2 linked regions of the Homo sapiens genome follow. Each later gene encodes a partner of the first gene's protein in a complex. Each region holds a gene or a part of one and is shown on either strand. Other genes may lie near its edges. The genes, in order: PEX5 and PEX14.

The links.
Region 2: the proteins of PEX5 (region 1) and PEX14 are in contact, whole or in part, in an NMR structure (PDB 4BXU), measured with the Homo sapiens proteins. Residues at the interface, in NP_001124497.1 of Homo sapiens: Glu59, Leu62, Val63, Glu65, Phe66, Leu67, Gln70; in NP_004556.1 of Homo sapiens: Thr31, Phe35, Asn38, Arg40, Val41, Ser44, Pro45, Thr48, Arg49, Phe52, Lys55, Lys56.

Annotation. Positions count from the first base shown.
Region 1 is NC_000012.12:7,182,150-7,194,349, forward strand, and holds the start of PEX5 (peroxisomal biogenesis factor 5), read left to right. Parts: upstream 1-7,536; 5' UTR 7,537-7,601; exon of another isoform or gene 7,602-7,784; coding exon of another isoform or gene 7,785-7,831; exon of another isoform or gene 7,832-8,212; coding exon of another isoform or gene 8,213-8,228; coding exon 8,229-8,375; coding exon of another isoform or gene 8,376-8,465; intron 8,466-8,738; coding exon 8,739-8,774; intron 8,775-9,076; coding exon 9,077-9,209; intron 9,210-9,419; coding exon 9,420-9,551; intron 9,552-12,200.
Region 2 is NC_000001.11:10,614,541-10,626,323, reverse strand, and holds part of PEX14 (peroxisomal membrane protein PEX14), read right to left. Parts: intron 9,489-11,783; exon of another isoform or gene 9,209-9,488; intron 7,993-9,208; coding exon 7,907-7,992; intron 3,306-7,906; coding exon 3,203-3,305; intron 1,985-3,202; coding exon 1,887-1,984; intron 1-1,886. UniProt on the Homo sapiens protein: Component of the PEX13-PEX14 docking complex, a translocon channel that specifically mediates the import of peroxisomal cargo proteins bound to PEX5 receptor.

The sequences.
Region 1 (12,200 bases):
AGACTTTTACTTCCTTTCCCAAGTATTAGAGCAAGTTGTATCTCCAAAGGGATCTAAGGGAGCTCTACGCTGCATCCTTAGGCACCTAGGCTATGAACCCAGGGAGTCTTGCCCCTGGTGTCCCTCCCAATTTAGGTATACAGCTGTCAACATAGGCAGTTATGTGGGACCCATTCCCCACCACCCTTGCCAGGGCCTTAAAACTGATGACCCAGTACTTTAACAACTGGAACTCGGTCTACAACAATATAATAGATCAGGATGAAAATGCATTAAGTAAATTAAGGGAAGGCACATATTCCTATAGTGGCAAATGGGGGCAATGAGCAAACGTCCTTCCGCTGTGTTCCCAAAATCCATCTACCAAGAGAGAAACTATCTCTCTCACAGCTTTGCCTAGTGATCCTATGTAAGTCAATACTACTGGAAAGACAACATAGCACCCAGAAGTTTATTTACTGGACTTTAGCATATAAAGCCAGCAAGTCCATCCTTTTCTCCTTGCTCCCCTTCTCATAGGAAAAAGGCACATAGGATAAACAGGATCCATCTGTCATATTTTGTACCCAAAAAGACTTAATCCGGGACAACAAAAAGTTTAAGATCAATAATTAGGGCATATTCCTACAAAGAAAAAGAAGGACAAAGGCCCCAGTGGTCAAAAACTCTATCTCAATCCTGACTCAAAAGGTTACCTACACCCTCTCTGAAATGAATTTGCATAGGAACTGTTATTTATGGGAATGCATTTTCATGGGGCAACTGGGTTGTTATGAAATACTCAGGAACACAGCCCAGCTCTAGAACTCACCCCTGAGTGCAAAGGCAATGTTGGGCATGCTAGTAAAGGACCCCTAGAATCCAGCAGCCCCGACCCCTTTCTTTGTGGTCAAGAAAGGTGGGAAAACAGGTGCAGGACTGCTACATTGGTGAGCATAACTAATCCGATAAGCAGAGGTCCATGGGTGGTTACGCACCCTGGAAAGGAATAAGCATTAAGACCACCGAGGATGCTCTAAAACTGATGCGATGCGCATTGGAAAATGACTCGGGGTGCTGGCATCCCTATGTTCTTTTTTCAGATGGGAAATGTTCCCCCCAAGGCAAAAATGCCCCTAAGATGTATTCTGGAGAATTGGGACCAATTTGACCCTCAAACACTAAGAAATAAATAACTTATATTCTTCTGCAGTACTGCCTGGCCATGATATCCTCTTCAAGAGGGAGAAACCTGGCCTCCTGAGGGAAGTATAAATTATAACACCATCTTATAGCTAGACCTCTTTTGTAGAAAAGAGGGCAAATGGAGTGAAGTGCCATATGTGCAAACTTTCTTTTCATTAAGAGATAACTTGCAGTTACGTAAAAAGTGTAATTTATGCCCTATAGGAAGCTCTCAGAATCTACCTCCCTACCCCAGCATTCCCCCGGCTCTTTCCCCAACTAATAAGGACCCCCCTTCACACAAACGGTCCAAAAGGAGATAGACAAAGGGGTAAACAATGAACCAAAGAGTGCCAATATTTCCCGATTATGCCCCCTCCAGGCAGTGGGAGGAGAATTTGGCCCAGTCAGAGTGCATGTACCTTTTTCCCTCTCAGATTTGAAGCAAATTAAAATAGACCTAGGTAAATTCTCAGATAACCCTGATGGCTATGTTGATGTTTTACAAGGGTTAGGACAATCCTTTGATCTGACATGGAGAGATATAATGTTACTGCTAGATCAGACACTAACCCCAAACAAGAGAAGTGCCGCCATAACTGTAGCCCGAGAGTTTGGCGATCTCTGGTATCTCAATCAGGTCAATGATAGTATGACAACAGAGGAAAGAGAACAATTCCCCACAGGCCAGTAGGCAGTTCCCAGTGTAGACCCTCATCAGGACGCAGAATCAGAACATGGAGATTGGTGCTGCAGACATTTGCTAACTTGCGTGCTAGAAGGACTAAGGAAAACTAGGAAGAAGCTGATGAACTATTCAATGATGTCTGCTATAACACAGGGAAAGGAAGAAAATCCTACTGTCTTTCTGGAGAGACTAAGGGAGGCATTGAGAAAGCATACCTCTCTGTCACCTGACTCTGTTGAAGGCCAACTAATCTTAAAGGATAAGTTTATCACTCAGTCAGCTGCAGACATTAGGAAAAAAAACTTCAAAATCTGCCTTAGGCCCAGAGCAAAACTTAGAAACCCTATTGAACTTGGCAACCTTGGTATTTTATAATAGAGATCAGGAGGAGCAGGCGGAATGGGACAAACGGGATTAAAAAAAGGCCACAGCTTTAGTCATGGCCTTCAAGCAAGCAGACTTTGGAGGCTCTGGAACAGAAAGGCTGGGTAAATTGAATGCTTGCTTCCAATGCGGTCTACAAGGGCACTTTAAAAAAGATTGTCCGAATAGAAATAAGCCACCCCCTTGTCCATGCCCCTTATGTCAAGGGAATGACTGGAAGTTCTGCTGCCCCAGGGAACGAAGGTCCTCTGAGTCAGAAGCCACTAACCAGATAGATGATCCAGCAGCAGAACTGTGTGCCCAGGGCAAGCACCAGCCCATGCCATCACCCTCACAGAGCCCCGGGTATGCTTGACCATTAAGGGCCAGGAGGTTAACTGTCTCCTGGACACTGGCACAGCCTTCTCAATCTTACTCTCCTGTCTCGGACAACTGTCTTCCAGATCTGTCACTATCTGAGGGGTCCTAGGAGAGGCAGTCACTAGATATTTCTCCCAGCCACTAAGTTGTGACTGGGGAACTTTACTCTTTTCACATGCCTTTCTAATTATGCCTGAAAGCCCCACTCCTTTGTTAGGGAGAGATATTCTAGCAAAAGCAGGGGCCATTATACACTTGAATATAGGAGAAGGAGCACCCATTTGTTGTCCCCTACTTGAGGAAGGAATTAATCCTGAAGTCTGGGCCACAGAAGGACAAATAGACAAGTGAAGAATGCCTGTCCTGTTCAACTTAAACTAAAGGATTCTGCCTCCTTCCCCTACCAAAGGCAGTACCCTCTTAGATCCACCCAGCTCTCTGATGGACAGCCCAACAAGCCCCAACTTGGACTTCAAAAGATCGTTAAGGACCTAAAAGCCCAAGGCCTAGTAAAACCATGCAATAGTCCCTGCAATACTCCAATTTTAGGAGTACAGAAACCCAATGGACAGTGGAGGTTAGTGCAAGATCTCAGGATTATCAGTGAGGCCGTTGTCCCTCTATACCCAGCTGTACCTAACCCTTATACTTTGCTTTCACAAATACCAGAGGAAGCAGAGTGGTTTACAGTCCTGGATCTTAAGGATGCCTTTTTCTGCATCCCCGTACATCCCGACTCTCAATTCTTGTTTGCCTTTGAAGATCCTTTGAACCCAACATCTCAACTCACCTGGACTGCTTTACCCCAAGTGTTCAGGGATAGCCCCCATCTATTTGACCAGGCATTAGCACAAGACTTGAGCCAGTTCTCATACTTGGACACTCTTGCCCTTTGGTATGTGGATGATTTACTTTTAGCAGCCCGTTCAGAAACCTTGTGCCATCGAGTTACCCAAGCGCTCTTAAACTTCCTCGCCACCTGTGGCTACAAGGTTTCCAAACCAAAGGCTCAGTTCTGCTTACAGCAGGTTAAATACTTAGGGCTAAAATTATCCAAAGGCACCAGGGCCCTCAGTGAGGAACGTATCCAGCCAATACTGGCTTATCTTTATCCCCAAACCCTACTAACTGTTGGATGTGCCTCCCCCTGCACTTCAGGCCATACATTTCAATCCCTGTATCTTTAACCTCCTTGTTAAGTTTGTCTCTTCCAGAATCAAAGCTGTAAAAACTACAAATGGCTCTTCAAATGGAGCCCCAGATGCAGTCCATGACTAAGATCTACTACAGACCCCTGGACCTGCTAGGCCATGCTCTGATGTTGATGACATCAAAGGCACCCCTGCTGAGGAAATCTCAACTGCATGACCTACTATGCCCCAATTCAGCAGGAAGCAGTTAAAGCAGTCGTTGGCCAACCTCCCCAACAGCACTTGGGTTTTCCTGTTGAGAGGGGGGACTGAGAGACAGGACTAGCTGGATTTCCTAGGCCAACTAAGCATTCCTAAGCCCAGCTGGGGAAGATGACTGTACTCACATTTAAACAGGGTGCTTGTAACTCAGCTCACACCTGACCAATCAGGTAGTAAAGAGAGCTCACTAAAACACCAATTAGGCTAAAAGCAGGAGGTAAAGAAATAGTCAATCATCTATTGCCTGAGAGCACAGGGGGAGGGACAATGATCGGGATATAAACCCAGGCATTTGAGCTGGCAGTGGCAACCCCCTTTGGGTCCCCTCCCGTTGTATGGGAGCTCTGTTTTCACTCTATTAAATCTTGCAACAGCAAAAAAAAAAAAAAGAAAAGAAAAGAGTTTTAGACATATGACTTTAAGAGGATTAAGAAAATTGAATAAATGTTTATAAGTTTGATTTATTAAAGGGTTGAATAAAAGTTCAGAAAGGTTTTGCCTAGTAGTGTTGTTTGCCCTGTCAGGTATTTAAAATATGAATATTAAATGTCACATAGTTAAAAATATTAGGAAATTTGTCTTTTATTTCTAAAAAGCAGAAGTACAGCACAGTGTTTAAGAGCATGGACTCTGGAATAAGACTGTGTAGGTCAAAGATCCACAAACTATGGCCTGGTCCCTGTTTTTCCATAGTCTGCAAGCTAAGAAGTATTTGACGTTTTTTGGCTGGGCACGGTGGGTCACATCTGTAATCCCAGCACTTCAGGAGGCCAAGGGGGGTGGATCATCTGAAGTCAGGTGTTTGAGACCAGCCTGACCAACATGGTGAAACCCCATCTCTACTAAAAATACGAAAATTAGCTGGGCATGGTGGCATGTGCCTGTAGTCCCAGCTACTCGGGAGGCTGAGGCAGGAGAATCACTTGAACCTAGGAGGTAGAGGTTGTAGTGAGCCGAGATTGCGCCACTGCATGCCGGCCTGGGTGACAGAACAAGACTGTCTCAAAACAAATAAGTATTTGACATTTTTAAATAGTTGGAAAAACATCAAAAGAAGAAGAATATTTTGTAACATGAAAATTATATAAAATTCACATTTCAGTCCCCATAAAAAGCATTACTGGAATACAGCCATGCTCATTTGTTTAGGTGTGGCCTATGTCTGCTTTTGTGCTCCAACAGCAGGGTTGAGTCACTGTGACAGAGACTGCATGGACTACAAAGCCAAAAATATTGACCATTGAGCCCTTTACAGTTTGGTGACCGTGGTCTGGGTTCAAATCCCAGCTCTGCTATTTATTAGTATGACCTTGTGCAAGTCACTCAACTTCTCTGTGCCTCAGTTTCCTCTTTTGTAAAATGGGGGATAATAGTTATTATTAATAACTATTAGGAGGATTAAATAAATCAATAGTTGAAAAGTGCTTGAAACAATGCCTGGCACACAGTCAATGCAATGTGTGTCTAAACATCTATTGAACTTGAATTCGTCAAACATTAAAGAATAAGTAAAAATTATTTTTATTTTATAAAAATTACTACTTTTATGAATAGAACAAGAATTTAAAGTTGAACCTGGATTAACAAAATCTAGGGTTTCAAATCTAGAGCTTCAGTAAATTAAATATTAAACACCAAAGTCACTCTATTAGCCCTTTCCCAGCACCTCTGGCTGGGACTGTGGACCAAGTTCTGTGAATGATTCTATGGCCTAGGAGATCAAAGATCTCCATGGTTTATCAGTAAGTCTTCTCTAAGACTGGGAAGTAGGTGCCTAGAGTTATGCCTGGATTAAATTTTGACTTCCTAGCCATCTGATTTTGCACAAGTCTTATCTGTAAAGTGGGTCTACTAATATCTATTTAATAGGGGTATTAAGAAGATTAAAAACATTGAGATACATAAAGTGTTTTACACAACACCTGGATTTTAGTAAACATCAGTTATTATTATTAGCATTCTTCCAAGATCTGCACACAAAGTGAGTTACGGCTAATCAGTTGATAAACTCCTAGCAGAGCAGAAGGTTATGTGTGTTGTGATGTTTAAGTGGTACTGGGAAACTCTGGTTGCCTTGAGGTTCTGAAATTCTACTGTATCAGATGGGTTCCTTTAAACATTGCTCTCTCTAGGGGGTCCTCTTTTTAAAAGTATGCACCTTCTGGAGGGCATCTCTTCATCCTTGTGTGGTTTAGTTTATCAGGTATTTTCCTCACGATGGCAGCCTGAGAACAGGGGACGCCCAAGGGCTGGGATTTGTGTGCTCCGGAAGAAAACGGGGTGTAGAAGTGGGGCCTCTGAAAGAGGGCGAAAAGGCAAGGAAAAGGAGAAATGTTGCACAGTCTTATGGTCTGTCCCCTGCCATTCTGTTCCCCTGAGGTGTCAGAGCAGCTTCTCTGTCTTCCCAGGGATGAGTTTACACAGACATTCCCTGTGGCCCCCTGAGGCCTCCACCTCTGAAATCTGCAGAACAGCCAGGAAACAAGCCCGGCCCATGGCGCCACCTGCTGCCTGCCTGCCTCCGCTCATGCACCCTGGGCTGGGATGGTACTTCTGTTCGTCTGGCATTATTGCCCTTGGTCATTTACCGGCAGCCCTGGGCCCCTCCTTGCTCTTCTCCATGACACTAGGACTCCCTTGGTCTTGAAGCTGGGTGAGATTATCAGGGTTTGTTTCTCAATGACTTTGAGGTTTGACAGCAGAGCACACTCTTTGGCAGATGAGGGGGCTTGAGGCTTAGTCTTATTCCGTGATTAAAAGCATTTCTTGTATGTTTGTCCTTTCCCAGCCTGGAGTGATGGGAATAAGGCCACTATGTTGACTTAGCGGAAGGAAGGGCTGACTCACTGTTCACCTTCCCTGTACGTTACCAGCTCGAGGTCTCAGGATGCGTTGGACCCTATTTTGGTCTCCGGAATTTGTCATCATGCAGTGCTATTTTCCCCATTATGCAGAGGTGGAGAGGGATTAAGGCGGGGGCGGGCCCCTGTCTCCATGGAGACAGTGACGCTACCCCGCTAGGGGTTATTTGGAAGCGGGGCAGGCCTAGGAGGCTGAAGAAGGCTTCGGACTGGACTCCCCAGCCCCTGGTGTTAGGGCTTTTCTCTTTCTTGGGCTTGGGAACATTAGCCAGCCCCATTTTAGAGGGGAAAACTGAGGCTCAGAAAGGGCACTGAATCCCCTTAGGTCACAATGCGCCCAAGGGAAGAGGCAGGATCGACTGAGCCTAGGATCTCGCGTCTTCGGCTTTCCCCCAGAGCCTGGGAAGCCCTTCTTAGCTCCACTCTTCTTTGAGCTTTCCGTCAAACAAATCCTAGGGCCCGTGGCCTTTTCGAGCGCTCCTAAAGGCGACTCTCCAAGACCCGCTCTCTAAGGTGCTCTTCCCCTTTAAGACTCACGGCTCTTCCCGTCAGGCTGCGTCGCAGTCTTAAGGCCCCGCCTTTTCAGACAGCTTCCGCTGGGCCTGGGCCGCTGCGGGGCGGTCACGGCCCCTTTAAGCCTGAGCCCCGCCCCCTGGCTCCCCGCCCCCTCTTCTCCCCTCCCCCAAGCCAGCACCTGGTGCCCCGGCGGGTCGTGCGGCGCGGCGCTCCGCGGTGAGCGCCTGACCCCGAGGGGGCCCGGGGCCGCGTCCCTGGGCCCTCCCCACCCTTGCGGTGGCCTCGCGGGTCCCAGGGGCGGGGCTGGAGCGGCAGCAGGGCCGGGGAGATGGGCGGTGGGGAGCGCGGGAGGGACCGGGCCGAGCCGGGGGAAGGGCTCCGGTGACTTAAGGGGAGGGAATGCTCCTCTGCCGTGCTCACCGCGTGCTGGGGCTGCGCGGGGCTAGGTATGGTCGGGCTGTTTTCCCACTGTCCCTTCTTCGGGCAGTGTCGCCGTCCAGCCTGGTTGTTGAAGCGTCCCCGTGGTCCCCCGGGGTCCAGGCCCCTTTGTGGAGGCAGCTGCTGGCCCCCAGCCCATGGGACCGTAGTCGCGGAGGCCTCTGCAGAGGCGCAGGCTGGAAGCGGTGGCCTTTGAGGGGGGCGGCAGGAGAGAGTACCGACCTCCCTCGAACTCCTGGCAGAGGTGGGGGTCGCAGCAAAAGCACTGGGGTGGAGGGCGGCCAGTGTGGGGCAGACGCCTGTGTGCCTTCCTCAGATACGGGCAGAGTTGTGGATGTGAGAAGGGTCTGGCTTGGGTACCTCAGTTCCAAACCTCCTGTGTCCATCAGAGAGCTGGCGGTCACCATGGCAATGCGGGAGCTGGTGGAGGCCGAATGCGGGGGTGCCAACCCGCTCATGAAGCTCGCCGGGCACTTCACCCAGGACAAGGCCCTTCGGCAGGAGGGATTGAGGCCTGGCCCCTGGCCCCCCGGAGCCCCGGCCTCTGAGGCAGTGAGTGTTCTTGAGGTGGAAAGCCCAGGTGCAGCCTCTGAGGCAGTGAGTGTTCTTGAGGTGGAAAGCCCAGGTGCAGCCTCTGAGGCAGTGAGTGTTCTTGAGGTGGAAAGCCCAGGTGGTGGTGGTCTGAGGTGGAGGGGCTGTTTGCACATCTTGGTATAACTGCTTTCTCTATTGTGTTGCAAATCATAGTAGTTACCACTTACTGAGCGTTTATAAACACTAGAAAACCCTGTGCACCTTTAAATAAATGCAACCATTTTATAGATGAAGAAGCCGAGGCTCAGATGCCTATGGGCTTCATCAACCCCTGATTTTAGAGGAACTGCGTCATTGTACATCTCTGTCTTTCTCTCTTAGGCCTCCAAGCCTTTGGGAGTAGCTTCTGAAGATGAGGTAAATAGACCAGTCTCTTTTCTGTCCCATTTTTCTCTTGCCCACTGTGTTTTTACCTTTAAACTTAGTTCACCCGTATTTCAATTTTTGGGCTTTCCTGACCGAATGAGAATGCCTGCTTGTTTTTAAATGTATTTTTTCGTCCTTCTAAATCTATGGAAAGACAGTTTCTCTTTATGTGTCTCCAGTTTCTGTGTTTTCCTTTCCTTGTATCTAACATTGGGATCCCCCTCCAGTGGGTCCTGCCTCTTGCTGGGGCCTCCCAAGCCTATGGGTTCATTTCATCATTTCCCTTCTGGCAGTTGGTGGCTGAATTCCTGCAGGACCAGAATGCACCCCTTGTGTCCCGTGCCCCTCAGACCTTCAAGATGGATGACCTCCTGGCTGAGATGCAGCAGATTGAGCAGTCAAACTTCCGCCAGGCTCCCCAGAGAGGTGAGTCCAGAGTCTAGTGGGAGGGGAGATCGTTTTCCATGTAGCCAGGGCCAAGGAAGGGGGTTCCATTGGATGCTGCTGGCATTGGGGACCTGAGATGCAGAAGGAGACAAAAGTAACAGAGTGTTTTCACGTGGATTCAGGGTTCTTTAGGCATGATGGAATGGTATGTATGTATTCTTTCTTAGTTTTCTCTCTCTCTCTTTTAAGCCCCTGGTGTGGCAGACTTGGCCTTGTCTGAGAACTGGGCCCAGGAGTTTCTTGCAGCTGGAGATGCTGTGGATGTAACTCAGGATTATAATGAGACTGACTGGTCCCAAGAATTCATCTCTGAAGTTACAGGTGAAACTTGTTATGGGAAAATCTATATTGGCTTCTATGGGACAGAATTCTATACCCTTCCCCTGTTCACGTTATAGTGTGATTACGATTTTTCTGGTCTCATGACTCATTTCTAGAGGGGTAGGGTACTGAACTCAATTTCCCTTAGGTGATAACGGAATGTAATGTATATTAAAGAGAGGACTGGGTTTGTACTGGATAAGAGATTTTGGATAGAGAGAACGAAGAGTTTGGTTGGCCTTTTTACTTTATCACTGTGGTTTAGTGGAGAGGATCTACAGATTGGATGGATGGCAGTGTTGCCGAGGAAGAGAGTATTCACTACAGCACCTGGGATTCTGGCCTTAAGTTATTTGGAACAGAATTGGGGCCTTCAGAGTGTTATTGTGAAGTTCCAGTGCCTGAAGTGTATGGCTTTAGAAGGTAAAGACCATACCATGATGATGATAATAAAAATTAATAACAATAGTTACGTTCTAGGCCTTGTGTTACATGCTTTGAATGCATTATCTACTTACTCTCCATGAGAACCCTAGAGGTAGTTACTGTTTTTAGACCTAGTTTAAAGATAAGAAAATTGAGGCTTAGAGGTGAAGTGTGCCCAAGGTTACACAGCTTTGTCAGTGGTAGAGTTGGGATTTGATCCTGGATTTGAATGATTCCTGACCCTGTGGCCTTAACTGTGATGCTATACTGTCAGGCCTGCAATTTATCTTCTTTCTTGCTTTGCTACAGACTTAAAGGTTTCAGCCTAATTTTTCCTCTTTGAAAGCATCCATTGCTCCTGCATCTTTTATGATTGATTCTTCTTGCCCTAAGCCTATCTAATCAGGTACATGGTGGGAAGGGCAGTCTCTTCAGCTTTCCTCTTCCTGATTGCTCTCAAAAGTTAGCCTTTTTCCTGTTTAAGATATCAAGAATAACAAGAGATACACATAGAGAAAGTTACCAAGTTCCAGGATCTCGGGGAGTCACATCATCATGGTTCCTGAATTTTTCTGAGATGATTAAAGGGACTGAATTGGTTTCTACCCCCACCATTTTAATTTATGTTCTTTCTTCGTTTGCTACAGATTTCAAGGTCTCAAGTCTAATTTTCCTTGAGAGCATCCATTGCTCCTCGCATCCTTTAGGATTGATTCTTCTTACCCGAAGCCTATCTGATCAGGGACAAATGTGTGTGAAGGAGGCCCATGTTTAGGATGGGCTTCTCCGCACACAAGAGAAAAATCCCAAATCTAAAAACTAAAACTCACCTTTAATAAGATCTGTGGGTCTCTTTTATCACGTGTCTCTTTCCCACCCATAAGTTGGAGTTAAGGTAGAACAGTAGGTGCTCTTGGCTTTAAGAGTGCTAATCACTTTATCTTCTTAAGCTCATTAGAACTTCACAGTAACAGTAACACAAGGTGGATATCCCACCCCCATTTTATAGATGAGGAGACTGAGATTTGGAAAAGTTAAATACTTTGTGCAAAATCATTGAATAATAGAGATGATATTCAAACTCATGTCTGTGTGGCTCTTGAGATTCTTTTTTTTTTTTTTTTTTTGAGACAGGGTCTTGCTCTCACCCAGGGTGGAGTGCAGCGGTGCAATCTGTACGCACTGCAACCTCTGCCTCCTGGCTTCAAGGGATTCTCCCGTTTCAGCCTCCTGAGTAGCTGGGACTACAGGCGTGTGCCACCATGCCCGGCTAATTTTGGTATTTTTAGTAGAGACAGGGTTTCACCATGTTGGCCAGGCTGGTCTTGAACTCCTGACCTTAAGTAATCCACCACAGCCTCCCAAAGTGCTGGGATTACAAGCGTGAGCCACCGCACGCGCCCTCACGTTGAGATTCTTTGTGAAATTGCCGCAAGTTAAAATCTGAACCATAGCAAAGACCCTCTCCAAGACAGAAACTCAGTTTTTCACATAAACCTTAGACTTAAGTGCTATCTCTTATCACAGAGAGGCTTCTGTTGTAATGTGGGCATTAGTCATTTTTGATAATTCAGAAAAATCATTGCTACTATGAGCGTTGAGATGGATGAAATTTTTGCTGTAATTACCTGAATTGCATGCAGCCATTGAAATCTTCCTTAACTTGAAATGAAAAAGAACTTTAGAAAAACATGTTTTATCTGTCTCACCAGTTAAATGCTCTTAGTAGAGCTCTTCTAGTATTTTGTAGATTCTTTTGGAATCGTGCCTGTTTCACAGAGGCAGAGACATGCAAACCTTAGAATGGGAGTTGAGCTGTTTGAAGTCTGCCTTCATAAAAATGTCTTATTGCAGCAGTATATTGCTTTGCATGTAGTAGGCCTCTGGTATTGAATGAATGAATTGAGATCTGGGAGAAAAAGCTAAAGGAAAGGAGTTCATTTTGTCGTAACTGACTTTTTTTTATTATCCTTCATTTTTAATTACAGCATTTGTGGTTGATACAATTGTATGGGTTAGCTATGGCTTTATAGATAAGTAGATTTTGAGATGAAAGAAGGTTATACTTTTTAAGTTCTTATTTTAAAATCTCCACTGTTAAGAGTCAAAATCAAGTTTAAAAAGAATGTTGCAGCTCAATTATTTAAATTTAAATTTTTTATTTGGAAGTACTTAGTTTCACTGGAAGTTGAAAAAAAAAATGTATAGGAAGGTTCTGTATAC
Region 2 (11,783 bases), on another chromosome or scaffold:
AGGAGCCACGGCTCTGGCTTCTCTGAGACCTTGAAAGCTACAGCAGCCCATGAACAAGGGCACAATTTCCACTCACTGGCCTACAAGGGACTCAGATTTCCAAACGCATATGGTGCCAGATGCCAGGATTTAGAAATAAAATCTGACATCTGGGGCTTTTTAGCCAGCCTCTTTAAAAAACAGTTGTAGAAAACTCATAGCCTTCAGTTTTATGTAGGTTTTTTAATTACTTAAAGCTCTTCTTTTTAATTTTTTACAGTGCTCCAGTAGGAGTTTGGAAGCCAGATATAAAAACTTACATTACAGCTGAGAAAACACAGCTCTGGGTCTTTGGTTTATGGGGTAACCAAAGTCCTCACACATACGCGTTTAGATGCCAAGCCAGTGGCCCCATGCAGCTCGGGAGAGAAGGCTGGGGTGGGCCAGGGACAGCGGCAGCAAAGCCAGCTCGAGGGACTCTGAGGGGCCCAACCCCTCTCACCACCAAGCACATCCCGGGCCCCCACTGCTTCTTAAACACAACATGTGGTCTTAATCTCAGGCGTAAGGCCTGAAAACAGTTTTCCAATTTCCGGAATGGCTTCTGGCCACAGGCAGAGCATGGATCCAAAAGATGACCTGACCCAGGAGAGCAGGCAGGGCTGTCGCTGGGCTTCCTGGTGCTTTAGGGACCGGCCACCCGTGGAGAACACGCATTGCAGTGGCTGGAGGTGGTCACCAGTACCCACAGCCATCCCAGGAGGAAGAGCAGGTGGCACCTCTGTGTGTGGTTTGGATATCCAGGGGGGAGATTCCTGGGACCCTCTTCACAAGAGACACCCCAGACTCCATGGAAAGATTGTCATTTTCATGGTTTTTGCAAATGCAAAAGATCTGAGTGCTGGCTCAAGCCAACTCGTACGCTAGGAGTGGCTTTCCCTGGGTAAGCAACTCGGGATGGGACTCTCCAGAGCCCAGGCTGTGGGGGCAGACAGGGAGCAGTGTCCGCCGGCCACAGAGCTGTGGGACAAGGGACAGAGAGAGGAGCCAGTGGGTGTTCTGGAGCTACCAGGCCACTGTCTCCTGGGCCCGGTCTGTCTGATACCGCCTCAGGGATGACCTCTGTTACCCACCCACAGAACCTAGGCCTGCAATCCTGCGAGCTGGCTGGAGCCAGGCACCCTCTTGAACCCATGAAGAGCCCCAGGAATTAGGTGCCGTTATGGCTCCATTTTACAGATGAGGAGACTAAGACTCAGAGAGGTTAAGTAACTTGCCTGTGGTCATACAGCTAACAAGTGGCAGGACCAGGATTCAGCCTGATCCTGGAAGCTGCCACGCCAAGATTTCTTCACATTTGGGCAGTGAGGCAAGGACACTGCCTTGGGAGTTGGTTCTGGCTCCCTAGGATTGCCAGAACCCATGGAACCTGAGTCTAGAGAACCTGCCCGCTGCACTGCGGTGTGGATGGGGCTGGTGCTGGTGAACTGACTGCGACTCGCTTCTCCCCTGTCTGTTCCAGAACCCCTCCTGGCCATGCTGTGACCTGCAACCTAACTTATAGGTAGAGACCGTCCCATGTCTACACAGAAAGCCTCCAGAGCTGCGGGGATGTGGCTGCCATGAGATCTCCACAGGCAGAGGGTAGCTTTTCCTTCCTCCTGTTGGGAGGTGACATAGAGAGAGAAAGGATGGCCTCGACAGTTAAACGTCACACTGACTGCCCAGCAACAGCCTCCTGTCTCTACAAGGAGAGAAAGGGCAGCATCGGCCACGGCTGTGTAACCACTGTGAGACTGGGGCAAAGTCCAGCTCCCGAAGGTGGCAAGCCCGGCCCAAGGGACAAGAGTGAAGGGCACATGGGACAGACCTGGGCCTGGAGGGCCCTGTGCAGCAGAGACAGGTACCTTGGCAGCGGCCAGCTCGTGGGCAAGCTCCTGGATCTTCTGCTGCTGCTGAATCAGCAGCTCCTGGACGGAGGCGAGGGTCGTCTGTAACTGAGTCACTGCGAGGAGAAAGCAGTCACGGCGCTGGCAAATTCACAGGCACAGACGTTCCCCTCGCTCGGTCCGCACACCTCGGAGCTGCCCGTGTTCCCGCTCCATCTAATTTATCTGCAGACACCCCCAGCCCCCGCAATCCATCTAATTTATCTGCACTCTGGGTGATCTGCCTGCACTGTATCTAACCTCTAGTATTTCTACTTTATCTTTCCATTGTGTAGTTGTCCATGGTCAACAGTATATCCGTCCAGAACCTCTCCCCTCTAATTAGAGCTGGCTATGATTTGCTGAGCTCTCCCGGCTTCTCTGGCGCCTGCGTCCTTCATCTCCTGGGCCTCAGTGTCCTTGTGAAACTCCTGGGGTCTCCAATGCTGGGAGAGATGCATCTCAGGTCCCCGCCACATTCACATCCAGGAGTGGCTCAAGCCGCACGTCCTGTTTCCCACTGCTCCTTCCCACCCTCCCCACCTGACCCAAGCTGCCTGCTCAACTCCCTGGTGTCCCGTGACCCCTCAGGACCTTGTTGCCACCAATGTCAGCCTCGCAGGAGCAAACGGCAGCAGGATGGACGTGTCAGAGGGTTTCTGTGAGCTTCACAAACGTGCTCCAGAGGGACACAGACTCCTGCCTGGGACAGGTGGCTCTCTCATTGGCCTTGCTCTGGTTTTTAGATTCAGAGCTGCCGTCTAGTAAACAAGTTTATAAAGAAGAGAAGCCACCTCTGGCGCGACAGGTCCCAGCTAATCTGGGCCATCGCTGGGGCACTGGGTAATGAACGCGAGCCCTGTTGAGTCGATAACAGGGGAGGTGGCTGGGGTCCCGGGAGCCACAGTAATTACAGACTCTCTTGACCCCACAGTCGAGTCTTAGAGGGAAGGGGGAAAATCACTGAAAACCCCCCTGAAAACCTCATAGAAGCAGAAATTAAAAATGAACTTTACAGCCCTTAGAAAGGCTGTCATTTTATTCCCCTTATTAATATTCTGAGGTTGGGAGCCTTTCCGTAAAAACATAATTAATTGAGGCCGCGCCGACAGTAAACAAGCAATTTCAAATTAAACCGAAATGACGGCGGCTTCATTTGCAAATGTGAACAGATTCTCAGAGCAGATAAATGAAGTCACCACATAGAGTGGAGACAGAGGGAGAGGGGAGGGGCAGAGAAGGGGCTGCTTGGAGAAGGCTGTGAGGGGTGACTTGATGGAGTCATTAATCTTTACCTGTCTGGGCCACGCTGCCACTCAGCTCAGAGAGACCGGCCTCCATCCTCTCCAGCTGCTTTCTGTCCTCTCGGCCGCCCAGGATGAGGGGGAGCAGGTATTTCTGCAAGAAGCGGGACAGGGTGAGGAATGCATACGGACCCGGGGTTATCCTCCAACAATCTCTCAAATTCTGCCGCCCAACTTTCTCCCTGTCATCCCTGGGTTTTGGAAACCCTAAGCAAACACCATAAATGAACAAGATATTTGAAAAAGTTATGAGACTGCGATTACAACCACGTAAAAATTCTGCCTGAATAAGGACAAGGACCAGGAGGGAACGTGGACAGGGAGAGTCAGCTGGATCTGCTGTGATGGGAACTTTTTGGTTCCTTTATTTACTTTTCTTAGTGATGCTACACTATTTCTGTAACACAAAGTTATAAACTCTACTGTCAAAGTTGTAAGATATAAATGTGGATGGACACACAAGCAACAGATAATGCTGGAGCCTCCAGGAGGCGAGGGAGGCGGGGCAGCTCTTCCCGGCATGTTCTCCTGAATTGTGAACATTTTGAACCTGTGAGTGAATCACCTATTCAGAAACAAACGAGTAAATTAATAAACAAAACATCGCTGGAGAAACTAAAGGAAAATCAACAACACATTTCTGGGACCCTTGGTTCTCTCGCCAGGGGATAACATGTGCGCTCTGAGGCTGCTGGAAGAGGTCACCTCAGTCTTTTTCTAAATGAAGCCTGAATCCTCAGAACAAACTTCCTTCACGTAAGAGTCAAAAGAAGTCGAGTTCCCCAGAAGGAAACACAAGGCAGAAGGGAGAGGAAGGCGCAGGACCAGAAGAAACTGGCTCTGGGGAAAAAGAAAGTGAATGCGGCAGGGCCACCCCTCACAGGGGCCTAGAACCAGGGATGCCCGAAGGAGCCGTTCAGGAAGGGGGCAGGCAGGGCAGGGCTGGCAACTGGTGCTCTTGGTTGCCTTGGAGGTGAGGGTGTGGAGGGGTGGAGGTGGGTGGTGGGGCCTGCAGGGACAGCTGCGTGTAGGAACATGTGCACTGACGTCCAGCCACTCGGGACATGGAGACAAAGCCCCCCAGGTGAGGAGTGAGACCCGCTGCCCCCTTCAGTGGGCACTGCCAGAGGCAGTGCAGTGCAAGCCTGGCAGGAGCTGCCCGGGGATAACTTTGGTTCTTAATCTATCTGGGCCCAGATAGGAAAGAGGACGGAAACTTCTCCATTACGGTTTCTGTACCAGGGAAGGAAAAGAAGCTCTCTCACAAGGGGTTTGTGGGAACTCATTTCCAGAGTGACTCCTAAGTGAAGATCATTCTTCAGCAGCACATGTATAGACGCATTTTCTATTTTGCAAAGTGCTTTTCAACCACAGTGTGAGCTATTACCCACAACTGAGCCAAAACTCATCAAAGGTAGCCTTACACTTCAGGATGAAATGTCCTCAGCAAGAAAGGTAAAGAATTCTTGGCCGGGCGCGGTGGCTCACGCTTGTAATCCCAGCACTTTGGGAGGCTGAGGTGGGCAGATCATGAGGTCAGGCGTTCGAGACCAGCCTGGCCAACACAGTGAAACTCCGTCTCTACTAAAAATATAAAGATTAGCTGAGTGTGGTGGCGCATGCCTGTAATCCCAGCTCCTCGGGAGGCTGTGGCTGGAGAATCGCTTGAACCCGGGAGGCAGAGGCTGCAGTGAGCAGAGATCATGCCACTGCACTCCAGCCCGGGTAACAGAGTTAGACTGTGTCTCAAAAAAAAAAAAAAAAAAAAAAGAATTCATATATGTGTGTGTAACCAACTAAACACCCCATTTCTGAGATCAGAAGTCCTAAGGGCAGGAGCAGACACGCTGCCCTAGCCAAAGTCTTCACGTGCTTATAAAGCCAGTCGAGGGCTTTTTACCATTTCTTTTTTTTTTTTTTTTTAATTTCGAGAAACTGAGCAGATGCTTTAGAAATTCTCTTGTTACCATTGTGACTGATATTGCAATGTTTCTTTTCTTTTTAAAACAGAGCGGAGAGCCCAGAGCTTCGTAGAAACTACAAGTGGCAGCTCCGTGTGAGTGCCCACGCTAAGGCGGGCTGCCGAGCTGCCCTCCCGCTCCCGTCAGGCCACAGGCCCTCCATGGGTGGCCATGTGACAGTGCCTACTGCTCATTACAGCCAGGGCATTCATCTGAGGACTCTGGCGTTCGTGTCACATTCTTCTTGGTGCTTGTATACAGTCAGTGATTTGAAGGGGGCACCAGTTCAGAGGGAGAAGAACCGGGTCCCAAGAGGTGTTTTTGTTCTGTTCTGTTTATTTATGTATTTATTTGAGACAAAGTCTCGCTCTTTCACCCACGCTGGAGTGCAGTGGCACAATCTCGGCTCACTGCAGGCTCACTGCAACCTATGCCTCCCAGGCTCAAGTGATTCTCCTGCCTCAGCCTCCCAAGTAGCTGGGATTACAGGTGCACGCCATGACACCCAGCTAATTTTTGTATTATCAGTAGAGACAGGGTTTCACCTTGTTGGCCAGGCTGGTCTCAAACTCCTGACCTCAAGTGATCCGCCCACCTCAGCCTCCCAAAGTCCTGGGATTACAGGCATGAGCCACTGCGCCTGGCTTATTTTGTTTTTTAAATTGAGACAGGGTCTCCTTCTGTTGCCGAGGCTGGAGTGCAGTAGTGTGATCTCAGTTCACTGCAACCTCCACCTCCCGAGCCCAAGTGATCCTCCCACCACCCTCAGCCTCCCGAGTATAGCTGGGACTACAGGCTCACACCACCATGCCTAGCTTATTTATTTTATTTTATTTTATTTTATTTTATTTTATTTTATTGTTTGGTAGAGACACAGTTTCACCATGTTGGCCAGGCTAATATCAAACTTCTGGGCTCAAGCAATCTGCCTGCCCTGGCCTCCCAAAGTACTGGGATTAGAGGTGTGAGCCACGGCACCTGGGCCAACCCAGGATGTTTTGTTTCTCAATTTCTTTTTCTTTTTCTTTTTCTTTTTTGAGAAGGAGTCTTGCTCTGTCACCCAGGCTAGAGTGCAGTGGCATGATCTTGGCTTACTGCAAGCTCCGCCTCCCAGGTTCACCCCATTCTCCTGCCTCAGCCTCCCCAGTAGCTGGGACTGCAGGTGCCCGCCGCCATGCTGGGCTAATTTTTTGTATTTTTAGTAGAGTCGGGGTTTCACCGTGTTAGCCAGGATGGTCTCGATCTACTGACCTCGTGATCAAGTCAGGATCCTCAGCCTCAGCCTCCCAAAGTGCTGGGATTACAGGCGTGAGCCACCGCGCCCAGCCCTTGTTTCTCAATTTCTAACATGGAAATGTCCAGCTCCAGGAATACATGCTACACTTAAAAAATTATATTCTGCTACAACTGTCATTAGCTTTTGTATTACATCAAAAATGAAGAATCTGGAATACCATGGCTGACCATGTTTCATGTGCTAAGAGTGACCATGGCGAGTCTGAGTGCTCATTCAGGTTGTTTAAAAAAGAAAATCACCAGCCGGGCACGGTGGCTCAAGCCTGTAATCCTGGCACTTTGGGAGGCCGAGGTGGGCGGATCACCTGAGGTCAGGAGTTCGAGACCGGCCTGGCCAACAGTGAAACCCCATCTCTACTAAAAGTACAAAAATTAGCCAGGCATGCACCAGCACGCCTATAATCCCAGCTACTCAGGAAGCTGAGACAGGAGAATTGCTTGAACTCAGGAGGCGGAGCTTGCAGTGAGCCGAGATCATGCCACTGCACTCCGGCCTAGGTGACAGAGCGAGACTCCATCTCAAAAAAAAAAAAAAAAAAATCACCAATCAGGGGTGGAGGAGCTGGCAGCCTCGAAAGAAAAGAGGCTTCTCTACAGGGTCCCAAGATCTGGACTGGGCACCTACCCTGGCCTGCATTTTCTAGACTCTAGACTCATTTGCTTCACGTCCAAGTTGGGCCTTCACAAGGGAGTCAATGTTCACGTCATGCCTGCAGTTCTGTTGCAAGCAATGAACCTGGGATCCTGAAAGTTGACTTGAGAAGCCTGGGAAATCCTAGATTTCTATAGATGGCAGCACAACAGACAGAGCAAAAAGAACAGCTCCCATACATCTGATGACACTGAGGTTCTCACCGCCGCTCTTAAATGCTGTGGCAGAACAATGGTGTATAAAGCACTTCCATGTGCCGGGCATGGCTCTGAGTCCTCTACAAGGGAGACTGACTCTTCCGGACTTCACGACAACCTTGTGAAGTGGGGACTGTTATTCCCATTTTACAGACCAGAGCCTGTGATCACCAAGCTCCTGAGGGGCAGAGCCAGGGCTCAGCAAAGCAGCTGGCCCAGCGTCCATGCTCTTCGCCATTATGTTATTCTGTGTCTCAAAACTGCTCGCACGGCTTCCCCGTGCGGGCACTACTGTAAGTGCCTGACATGGGCTGGCAAGGGACAGACCTCACGACGCCCCTGCAAGTGGAGATCTGGGTGGTATATGCTGAGCACTGGAGAAAAGGTGGGCAGAGCCTGCCAAGCCCCACAGCAGGGCAGGGTCTGCCTGGATCCAGCTGTGAACCCCGACCTCTACCACAGCCTCTCACTGCCAACACACTCCAGGGCAGAGCACGGCAGTGCCTCCATGCAGGGGAACCAGTGAAAGGGTGCTGAATGCCACAGGGTGGCAGGGGCACAGCACCTGCAGCCGCTGGGGGTGACTCACCTTGTAGAGCTGGTGAAAGCCAAATGCAATGCCTGCCATGATGATGGCCAGGGCGCCGTAATCTCGCCATCGGGAGCCTGCGGGACCTACAGGCGGGAAGAGGAGGAGGGTTAGAAGACGCACATGGCGTCCTTCTTCGGGTGGGGGCTGGCACAGGTGCCTCAGTGGCACAGTCTCCTCGCCTCCAACAATGGGCAAGTGGAACACTCCAACGCAGGAAGGCAGCACATGATCATCACAACAGCAGCCGGCTCCACCCCTCCTGTTCCCACTGCCTCAACTGGGACACAAGGGATGCCAGTCACCCAACCCTGACTGCAGGCTGTGGGTGGAGGTATCTAGCAGTGAGCTGAGACCTGAGTTGGCAGTCAGGTGGCAGAGGTGATCTGAAGACCAACAGCATGGTCTCTACCTCAGGAACAAAAGATCCAGAGAGGATAACAGGAGTATGTTTAGGGGAGCATAAATATACCCATATATGCCCTACTATAGCTGGCGATAAGCTGGGGGCCACAGCAGAACCAAGCGGGGCCTCAGCGAAGTGGAGAGGGGGACCGTGGTACGCTGGGTGGGGGCACGGGGGTGGGCTGTGGTAAACTAGACCTCCCAGCCCTGCTCTCGCTTGGAGCCAGAGGAGAGAAAACACAAGTCTCCAAATGACTGAGCAAGGCTTCAGAGAATGAGAACGCCTATCAAAAGGGATGGGGGTGGCAGGGGAGAGGGGCTGGGGTCAGCAGGGCCTTGGAGGAGCCCTGAGGCCCTTGGGGGCTGGAGGGGAGCAAGCACAAAAGAGAGACGGTAGGTGGGTGTAGACCAGGTGAGCACCCTGGGCCTGACTAGAGAGGAGAGCTGCTCTGGCCCAGAGGACCCCAAGAGCAGGGTGCTGGGGAGAACGGAGAGGAGCCAAGGAAGCCGCAGGTACAGTGGGGGCTGGGGCGGGGCAGGAAAGAGGTAGACAGGTGGCACCAGGTGGACTGTGTGGTCAAGGAAGCCGAATATTCTTTCCTAAGCAATGGGAATTACTGGGGGATGTGAATCAGGGAGTGCCATGACCCTGGACAGCAGCACTGGGGAGGCTCTGAGGGTGGTCAGAAGTGGGGGCCGCAGAGGCAGAAGAGCTGGGGCGAGCCTGCTGCAAGGGTTCACGAGGTGGAGAGGGACTGGGACCAGCACAGAGGGCAAGAAGGGAGTGGGGCAATGTCTCAGGAGAACACATTGCTGCTGCTGTGAAGGGCAGCCAGTCTTCATGGAAGATCACCTGGCCCCGTTCTCTTCTCTTTATTTGTATTAAGTAATCTTTTTAGAGATGGGCTCTTGTTATGTTGCCCAGGCTGGAGTGCAGTGGCGATCCACAGGCATGTCCCACTGCTGATCAGAATGGGAGTTTTGACCGGCTCCATTTCTGACCTCCTTAGGCGACCTCGTGGTCCCCTGCTCCAGGAGGTCACCATATTGATGCAGAACTTAGTGCAGAACCCCGATCAGCACAGTGCCCCGTAGCCCGGAACTCCTGGACTCAAGGAATCCTCTCACCTCAGCCTCCCAAGCAGATGGACTACAGGCGAGCAGCACCGCGCCCGGCCGATTCTCTTTAGAACGGCACATAGCAAAGTGCCCTCCTGAATGCAATTCTACTTGACGTGGGGAGAGTTTCCACCTTCACTCTTTCCCATGCCCAGTTCACAAAGTGCTCCCACGTCCACAACCTCATCTGATCCTCCAAGGCACGCGGGAGAGCCCCGTCTCCACTGCGAACACCTTTCTGGAGCGGCCATCTCCAGGCCACGTGGCGGGTGCTCTGCCTCCCCCCGAAGGATCTGTCATCAGGAGGGGCGTGGGTGGGACACAGACCAGCGGGGAAGGCGATCACAGCACCAGTGGAGAGCTATCCGGAAGGCGCCCCCACAGTGTGCTGCTCATCTGGGAGAAAGGGGGAGAGGGAAAATCAGCAGCGTTCTGAACTCTGGGAAGGAACGTCACAACACGGCCGAGTGAAGCTGAAGGACTTGCTGCTTGAGAGACTTCTGCCCTCAGTTCTCACCTGTGCCTGTAAGTTTTCAGAGGTACCTTCCATGTCCTGGCGTTTTATGACCACAGGGGAGGAGAAGGCCCGTTCTTTCCTTCAGCTCAGGGCAGGATGTGGCATGAGGGGGAAGGGGCTGCTGGCACGCAGCCCCACCAGGCGGATCCAAGTCGCAAAGACCTCCGAGTGGGCAAGGAGACACCCCCTCCCCCAGGGCTGCTGAATGGCACTCTCAGGGGGCAGAGACGACAGGGCTGGAGGGGCCTGGAGTCCCTCCTTGGCCACCAAACTCCCTCCCTGCCTGCGGATTCCATGCGAGACTCCCCGGTGTGTCCTAGCCCTGGAATCTCGGTCCCAAAACTGTAATCAACATAGGGCCTCTCCCTCAGTCCCCAACTCCCATTTCTGTTTTACACTTTTTGAACAGGTAGCACGCATACAGTTTACTCATCGAATAGCACAGGGCAGTCTGTGAAAAAAGGCTTCCCCACCACCAACAGCCATTAGTAGTCTTACATTTATCCTTCCAGTGAGTCTGTGTGCACACCTAAGGTGGCACAGGATGTCTTCTCTTCCTTCACGTTTCCCCATCTCTCAATCTTGTTTTCTACAGCTGCAGGATATTCCACTTCACCTGCCCTCCGATGGGCACCCAGCTCATTTCCAACTTTCTACTACTGCACACCACGCTGCCATCAACAACGTGCACACGTGCCATCTCCCACATGGGGACACGCACCCTGTGAGCCTCAGAACCCCCAGAGGGTGGTCCCAGGGCGTGTGCATTTGCAGTTTTGAGAAATACTGCCACCCTGCCTCCATGGGGCCGATAATTCACCCTGAGCCGCTGCGCAATGCCTGCTTCCCCACGGCTGCGCCCACACAATGCACGATTCAAACGCAGAGATTCCTGCCAATACCACAGCAGGAAAACAGAAGTTCACTCTAGTTCTAATTTGCATTGATCTCATTTTGAGTGAGGATTGAGCATGTTTTCATCAGCATTTCCTTTTCGGTGTACTGTATGCTCTCCACTTTTCTACTTGATTTCTTTTCCCTTGTCACTTTAGAGAGACTTTTTATATAGCAGGGATATTAGCCCGCTGTCTGTGATCTGCATCGCAAACATCTTCTCTGGTTTATTTTTCTTTTGACTCTGCTAATGGTGTTTTGTCGCATGCAGAGGTTTTTATACAAATTTATCAATCTATTCTTTTATGGGTTCTGGGGTTTGTGTTATGGTTAGCAAGGACTTCCCCCACTCCCTTCCCAGGCTGTGCAGTGACACTCGGTGTCTAAGAAACTGCCATGGGAAGGGGACAGTGCTACTTCACTGATGGTGGACACCCCCACCCGACACAAATCACCTCTCGTTATACAGGGAGCTCTAAGAGCACTGAGGCAGACGGATCTTTCACCTCGACCCCAAGGAGCCGGGCACTTGGAGTCCTGGTCAGGTGTCTCTTCTGTCTCCCCTCTTCTAGCCAGCTTTGCTTGGCGCTCCAGATACAAAACCTGACATCTAGTGCAAGTCCATTTTCAGGAGGAAAAAGTGAAGACAGAGCAACCTGGCCACCCCGCTCTCTCAGAGTCCCTGCTCAGGAGGGCCTTCATCCATACCCGGAACATCCCTCCCTGCAGCCAAAATCCTCAGGCAGAACAAGTGCAGAACGGGGCCCACGGCCCGAATACCATATTCACCACTGATTTCTCAGACACCATGAAGCCTCTTGCAAGAAAGCAGCTGTGACTTGGCTGAAAGCTTGACCAGCACCTGGAGTTTGCTGGATTCCTCTGCTCACCCGCAAACATCCCGCCATGAGAAGGACAGCCTTCTCTGGGGCCCTCTGGGCT